Homo sapiens: one gene and its partner. The protein of the gene in region 1 interacts with the protein of each later gene in a pairwise test. Each region holds a gene or a part of one and is shown on either strand. Other genes may lie near its edges. The genes, in order: PSME4 and MTNR1A.

Region 1 (3,831 bases):
GAGATGGAGGGAAAGTTTGGGATTAATGATAGGAGCAGTATTCTTCACTAGACCTATTTTAATTCTTGAGAAATTTAAAATTATAAGGTGTTTCACATACAGTTTTTTTTTTCCAAGTGGTTTTATGTGTGATATGCTTTGTTATTTTTCCTCCTTTTAAGGCCCTGGAAATTTGAACATATAGGCATTGGGCTTCTGTCTCTACTGCTGAGAGATGACCGAGTGTTGCCTCTTCGTGCCATACGGTTTTTTGTTGAGAATCTCAACCATGATGCAATTGTAGTTCGAAAGGTACATACCTTGTTTTAGCTACAGTCTTGGGTTTGAGAATATGTACGTGACCTGAAGTCTTTAAATTCTTCACAAGCAATACACACTTGGTTAATAAATATCTTGAAGTGTATTGATTTGAAATCTCCCCCTGTTGATTCAGAGATGATAATGATTCATCTAACAAATGAACATGTTTAGGCACTCTGTTTAAAAGACTGGGGATATAGCAGGAAATAAGTTTATAGGCTAATGGGAAAGATTTAACAATTAGAAAATTAGGTGTGCAGTGTGTTTCAGGAGGGGCAAGAAACTCGAGGGTATAGCTTTTTACTCTCCAAGTGTTAGAGGTGAGGTGGGGGTTGGGGAGATGGCCTAAGCTGAAGCATTGGAGAAAGACCTTTAAAAATACCCTGAGGCTGGGCAGGGCTTGGTGGCTCATGCCTGTAATCCCAGCACTTTGGGAGGCTGAGGCAGGTGGATCACCTGAGGTCAGGAGTTCAAGACCAGCCTGACCAACATGGAGAAACCCTGTCTCTACTAGAAGTACAAAATTAGCTGGGCATGGTGGCACACGCCTGTAATCCCACCTACTTGGGAGGCTGAGGCAGTAGAATCGCTTGAACCCGGGAGGGGGAGGTTGCAGTGAGCTGAGATTGTGCCATTGCACTACAGCCTGGGCAACAAGAGTGAAAACTCTGTCAAAAAAAAAAAAAAAAAAAACCCTGAGGCTAAGATTTGAAGAATGAGCAGGTATTGGTTTAACAAAGAAGGGGTCAAAGTTTTCTAGGCAGAGAGACTAGCATGTGTCAAGACTGTAGAGTAAGAACTGCCTATGATTCATTCTAAGTCAGATTTAGCACTCACATGGATGTACTGCCAGATGTCGATAGGCGAGGTGTTTTTTTAAAGAAACAGAATCCTATTTCTGCTTTGAGTAAAGCAGACAACCAGTTAAGTGATTTAAACTTTTTTTTATGAATGTGTACCTTTTTCCTTTTCTAGATGGCTATCTCAGCTGTTGCTGGTATCCTTAAACAGCTAAAAAGAACCCACAAAAAGCTGACCATTAACCCCTGTGAAATCAGTGAGTACTACCAGAAGTAATTAATAGTGCTTTCCAATAAAACTCAGAAAATTTTCTTGACATGTATAAATTCTAGTTCTTGACCTCAAATATTGTTCTATGGATATTAACACAAAATATAAATAATATTATGAAGGAAACAGTTGACTTAGTAAAAGCTAGTGATAACTATTTACAAAAATAGATTGACTCTTTCTGCCTTCATATTTATCTCACCTACTAAGCAATTATACTAATTATTTTATCAACTGTATTTCAAAGACTTAAATTGCTGTTATTAATTTGTTAAATGTTTCTCTTTGGGTGGTGGGATTAGGGACAAGGTGAATTTTCTTCCTCATACCTTATTGTATTACCAGAATTTTTCAGAAGAAAAAACCATTTTTTTCTGGTCTCCAATCCAGGATTAAAACATTGCATTTAAATTGTATGGTATCTTTAGTTTCCTTTAATGCAATGTTTAATCCTGGATTGGATTATAGTCCAGAAGAAAATGTTTTAATTTTTTTCATATAAAGTACATTCAGTGGGACAACTGTCAAAATTTGAGTAAAGTCTGTTGATGAAATAATTTTACTGTATTAATGAAAGCTTTTTTGAGAATTGTATTTTGATTATTTGAGATGATGTCTACAGTTTATACTCATAGTTTAGATAAGTATGTGTGGAGAGAGAGAGAATATCAAAGTATGCATGGTAAAATGTCAAAATTTGGGTGTCTCAGTAAAAGATGTGGGAATTTTTTGAGCTCTGTAAGTCTGAAATTATTATTTCAAATCTAAATAGTTTAAACAAAATTAATCCTTTTAATTTTGGTAAAAGGAATGAAGTGTGTTTCATACTTGATCTCTCCCCCAAAATAACTGATTCAACACAATTTAGTAGATAATGCCATCTACTCTGTTTTGAAATGTGCCTCCAATTGCTCATATATATGTTATCTTAATGTTATTTTTGTAGTGTTGTTTTGTGAAGACAAAGTTATGCTGGTACTGTTGATTGAAATTTGGTAATAATTGTTGGGCGAATATTTTTAAATTCATCAAATGTGATTGTCTTTTCCTTAGGTGGATGCCCTAAACCCACCCAAATTATTGCTGGTGATAGGCCTGATAATCATTGGTTGCATTATGACAGCAAAACTATACCAAGAACTAAAAAAGAATGGGAGTCAAGTTGCTTTGTGGAAAAAACTCACTGGGGATACTACACCTGGCCAAAGTAAGTAACTTACTGTGCACCTTATCATTAAATGCCTTTGATATAACTGCTTTATCATATTTTGGTTTCTGGGGAGGTTCAGAGGCACTTGAAGGTTCTTTTATCTTTCCCCTTCCCTAGTCCTCTCTTTCTTTTGCTCCTGCCAATGCTATGCCTCATTCCTGCCTCTTTCCTTGTGCAAAAACCCTTAGCCTTTCTGAATCCCATGGTTATATGGCTAAGGAGGTTATTAATAGCTGCTCTAAATTATATTCCTACCTATTAATAATACATATGCCTAAACCAGCCCAGAGAAATACATATTTTTCTCTCCTTATTTACTCCATTTGTCATTAGGACACAGTGATCTGATAGATTTTTAAGGCCTAGACTGTTACTGCTGTACTCATCTCCCCAAACTTAGCATCTAGTTAGAGTTCATTAAAAGTGCCTTCTAATGCTTTCTATCCATGAAGCTCTAATATTTTTTTCTATGCGTATGATAAATATGAACTCTTACTATATAGGAATATGGTTGTTTATGCTGGTGTGGAAGAGCAGCCTAAGCTTGGCAGAAGCAGGGAGGATATGACAGAGGTAAGCATTCCATTTCACCATGGTTCAAATGCATCTTGTTTTGGGCCACTGATTTATCTCAACCTCACTTCAGTTCTTCTTCTTCTTTTTTTTCTTAATACAATTTGTGTTTTTCTGTATAGCACTGCATAAATATTGGTGACTATGTAATCCATTCTCCTCAACCCCTTCATACTAGTGCCAGTTGACATAGATGTTGATGTATCTAAGACTGAGTTACTACCCCATTCAGCCCTCCGTTGGCTACTGCTTTATGTAATTTGCTGCTCATTTCTTGTATCAGTTCTGATACAAGCGTTTTGAAGGAAAAGTTAATGACTGATTTTTAGTTTTCTATTGCATATAAATTATGGGATCTCCGTAAATGCATGTTGGTAGATTTCAGTTAAAACTCCTTAAACTTCATTTAATTTACTTCACTTTGAAAGTTGACTTGGCTGGGAGCCATGGCACATGCCTGTAATCCCAACACTTTGGAAGTCTGAGGCAGGTAGATCACTTGAGCCCAGGAGTTTGAGACCATCCTGAGCAACATGGCAAAACCTTGTCTCTACAAAAAATACAAAAATCAGCTGGGCGTAGTGGTGCACACCTGTAGTCCCAGCTACTTGGGAGGCTAAGGTGGGAAAATTACCCGACCCGAGGAAGGCAAGACTGCAATGAGCCATGATCGCACC
Region 2 (3,037 bases), on another chromosome or scaffold:
AGGGGAAGCTAGAACCTGGGAGGAGGGACTGGAGCTCTGGAGGATGGTCGAATCTCAAGCCAGGAGGAGGTGAGCAGGAGCTGGAGAAGCTGTGAGCACACTGCCGTCACCCACCCCCTGCAGGGCAGCAGATGAGACTCGGAGTGCCGAGCTTGTGGTGGCGTCTGGCACTTGACACAGACATACTGAGGGCAGAGAGCAAGCTACTGCTGCACTTCCGCCTTCAAAATCTCACGCAATTGCCTCTTGTGGGGAACACTAACCCGGAGCGGTGCAAGGAAAAGTCTTTTCAGCTTCGCGAAGTTGACACAATATAAACCCACTGTGCATCGATTAACCCTCGGCCAGGTACTGTTCAAGGTGGAGGGAGAAGATATCTAAGACAGGCAGTGTCCTCACCGAGGTGATAGCTGGGGCTGTGGGAGATGGGGAGAAGTAGAGACATAATCGCGATAAACAGAAAAGCAACGTCGTGCTGCTGTGTCATTCCCAGAAGGGACTCACAGGACTAGTTCTGAGGAAGGTACTCCCAGCAAGCTGACATTTTAGTTGTCTGTTACCTTATTTTATTCATATCTGTGCCATATTTCACTTCCACTTTAAGGTTTTATTCCTGGGAACAAATATTGACTGTGCATTTTATAGTTGGTGCCTTTAATCACCACAAGGCTGATCGCTGTTCGTCTTGTTGCCAGCATACTGACTTAGGTGTTTTCCTCCCCCATCTTCTCTTTAGAATGTTCTAGTTCAAATACGCTTCTTCAGAATTGTGCCTGGAGAGGCTGTAAGCCAGGACGTAGCCACAGGGCCCAGTTTCTGAGTCTCGTATCTGTAGGAGCACAGGAGCTTTCTCAGGGAAATAACATTGAACAACACTCACCAGTTCATAGCATTGGTATAATCCTGACTCTTTCACTAAGTAGTCGTACGACTTCATCCAATTTAACTCTATATTTTTGTTTTCTCATCTTTAAAAAGTAGGAATTATCCAGGGAGATCATTAACCCATCTCTCAATTTTAACATCCTATGATTCTATGATTCTGCCACAGTAAGGATTGGAACTATATTCAACAGAGAAGAAATTCTTACCCATGAACAGACATTATTTTACATTTCAGAATGCATTATTAAGCTTGTTGCATACAGTCCTGGATATCTGTAAAAATGGGTAGATTGTCCATATGTCTGGAGTTACATAGATTTGAGAATGGAATAGATGAACTTATAATGTGTATAATTATAATTAGATGATTTAATGACTCTTATCTGGTGAAGTTCATAAAAGAAAAAAGGAAATTCCCTTTTTCCTTCTCCGCCCAGACACCACACACCCCCCAGGCACACATGAACACTGGTGCTAAAGCTTTATGTGAGCTACCTGACAGCCGCACCTGTGGGGAGTCTGTGGCTTAATTAATTTTCACCAAGATTTGTAAAATGGGATTAATTCAAAGAATCAATGATCTAATTAATGTAATTGCTTGAATTGTAATGCAACATAATTACTATAAAATAAATGAAGCAGGGTATTCGAGCCATGAAAGAAATTTATGACATCATTTGTGATTTCATTTTTAAGCTCTTTTAAAAATAAATCCATATTAGGCCAGTTTGTCATCATGACACTCTGGGAACAAATGTGCTGTTACAATGACAGTTTGATTTGGAACAGAATTTCACATATTATAGATGCTTTTAAAGCATTAAACATTTTGAGCTAAATAATTTATTAAAATACACCTCTTAGGAATTTAAATGTTTCAACGCTAATTGAAAGTGATCTGTGGGAAAATAAATTTGCCTTTGTAACTTTAATTTGGATGAATACAACCAATTTTTAAAGTATTTGCTTTTATGACAATTTATCTGAAATTCCTAAATAAATGGCACAAATTTTGCCTTTCTCTCATCTTGACTGCTATGGGCTGTCTCATTTCAAATATTGGGAAGTGACAGTTTAATGAACTCATTGAGTGTATGAGCAAAAGTCACTGTATTTATTGGGTGTGGTCTAGGACGCAAATATGAGGAAATGTACTCACGAGGGCCACCATCTGGAGACGCAGGGAAGCCTGGCCTACAGGTCAATAGAATAGAAGGCGAAATCTTCTGTCCGTCCACCTGGGGCTCCCTCTGTCCCTGTCCAGCGCACCCCTTTCCTCACAGCTTCTGGTCTGTGCGTGCTCTGGTGCTGCTGCTTACTCTAGTGTAATTTTCTTTTTCTTTTTTTTCTTTTTTTTTTTTGATACGGAGTTTTGCTCTTGTCACCCAGGCTGGAGTGCAATGGCGCGATCTCTGCTCACTGCAACCTCTGCCTCCCAGGTTCAAGCAATTCTCCTGGCTCAGCCTTCCAAGTAGTTGGGATTACAGGTGCCCGCCACCACGCCCAGCGAATTTTTGTATTTTTAGTAGAGACGGGGTGTCACCATGTTGGCCAGGCTGGTCCTGAACTCCTGACTTCAGTTGATCCACCCACCTTGGCCTCCCAAAGTGCTGGGATTACAGGTGTGAGCCACTGCGCCCAACCACTCTAGTGTAATCTTTTTGACTTTTCCTGTCTCTCAATTCCTGTTTCCCCCTGCACCAAATATATGCATTTAATATGTAAACTGAATTGAATTTATTATAATTTAATCTGAGTAAAAAGCAGTATAAAGTGCTTTAAGACCCTTCAAAGGAGGAAGCTCTTACCACTAGGTGGGCAAATGAGCAAAGGCTTCTGGCATTTCTATTTGAGATAGACTTGGGAGAATGGGCAGGATTTAGAAAGTTGATGTGAGGAGCCATTCGAGGCAGAAGGAATAGTAAGAAACAGAGGCAGAAGAGCCGCAAAAGAAAAAAAACATATTTGCAGAACATCTCATAATATTTGACTAATGTAGCTGGGAGCAATGGCTCACACCTGCCATCCCAGCACTTTGGGAGGCCGAGGCAAGTGGATGGCTGGAGCCCAGGAGTTTGAGAGCAGCCTAGACAAAATGGCAAAACCCCGTCTCTACAAAAATACAAAAACGAGCCGGGTGTGGTGGTGTGCA

The links.
Region 2: the proteins of PSME4 (region 1) and MTNR1A interact in a two-hybrid assay, tested with the Homo sapiens proteins (one large-scale study listed by BioGRID and IntAct).

The regions. Positions count from the first base shown.
Region 1 is NC_000002.12:53,894,330-53,898,160, reverse strand, and holds part of PSME4 (proteasome activator complex subunit 4), read left to right. Parts: intron 1-161; coding exon 162-291; intron 292-1,275; coding exon 1,276-1,357; intron 1,358-2,424; coding exon 2,425-2,578; intron 2,579-3,084; coding exon 3,085-3,154; intron 3,155-3,831. UniProt on the Homo sapiens protein: Associated component of the proteasome that specifically recognizes acetylated histones and promotes ATP- and ubiquitin-independent degradation of core histones during spermatogenesis and DNA damage response.
Region 2 is NC_000004.12:186,535,556-186,538,592, reverse strand, and holds part of MTNR1A (melatonin receptor type 1A), read left to right. Parts: exon of another isoform or gene 1-348; intron 349-3,037.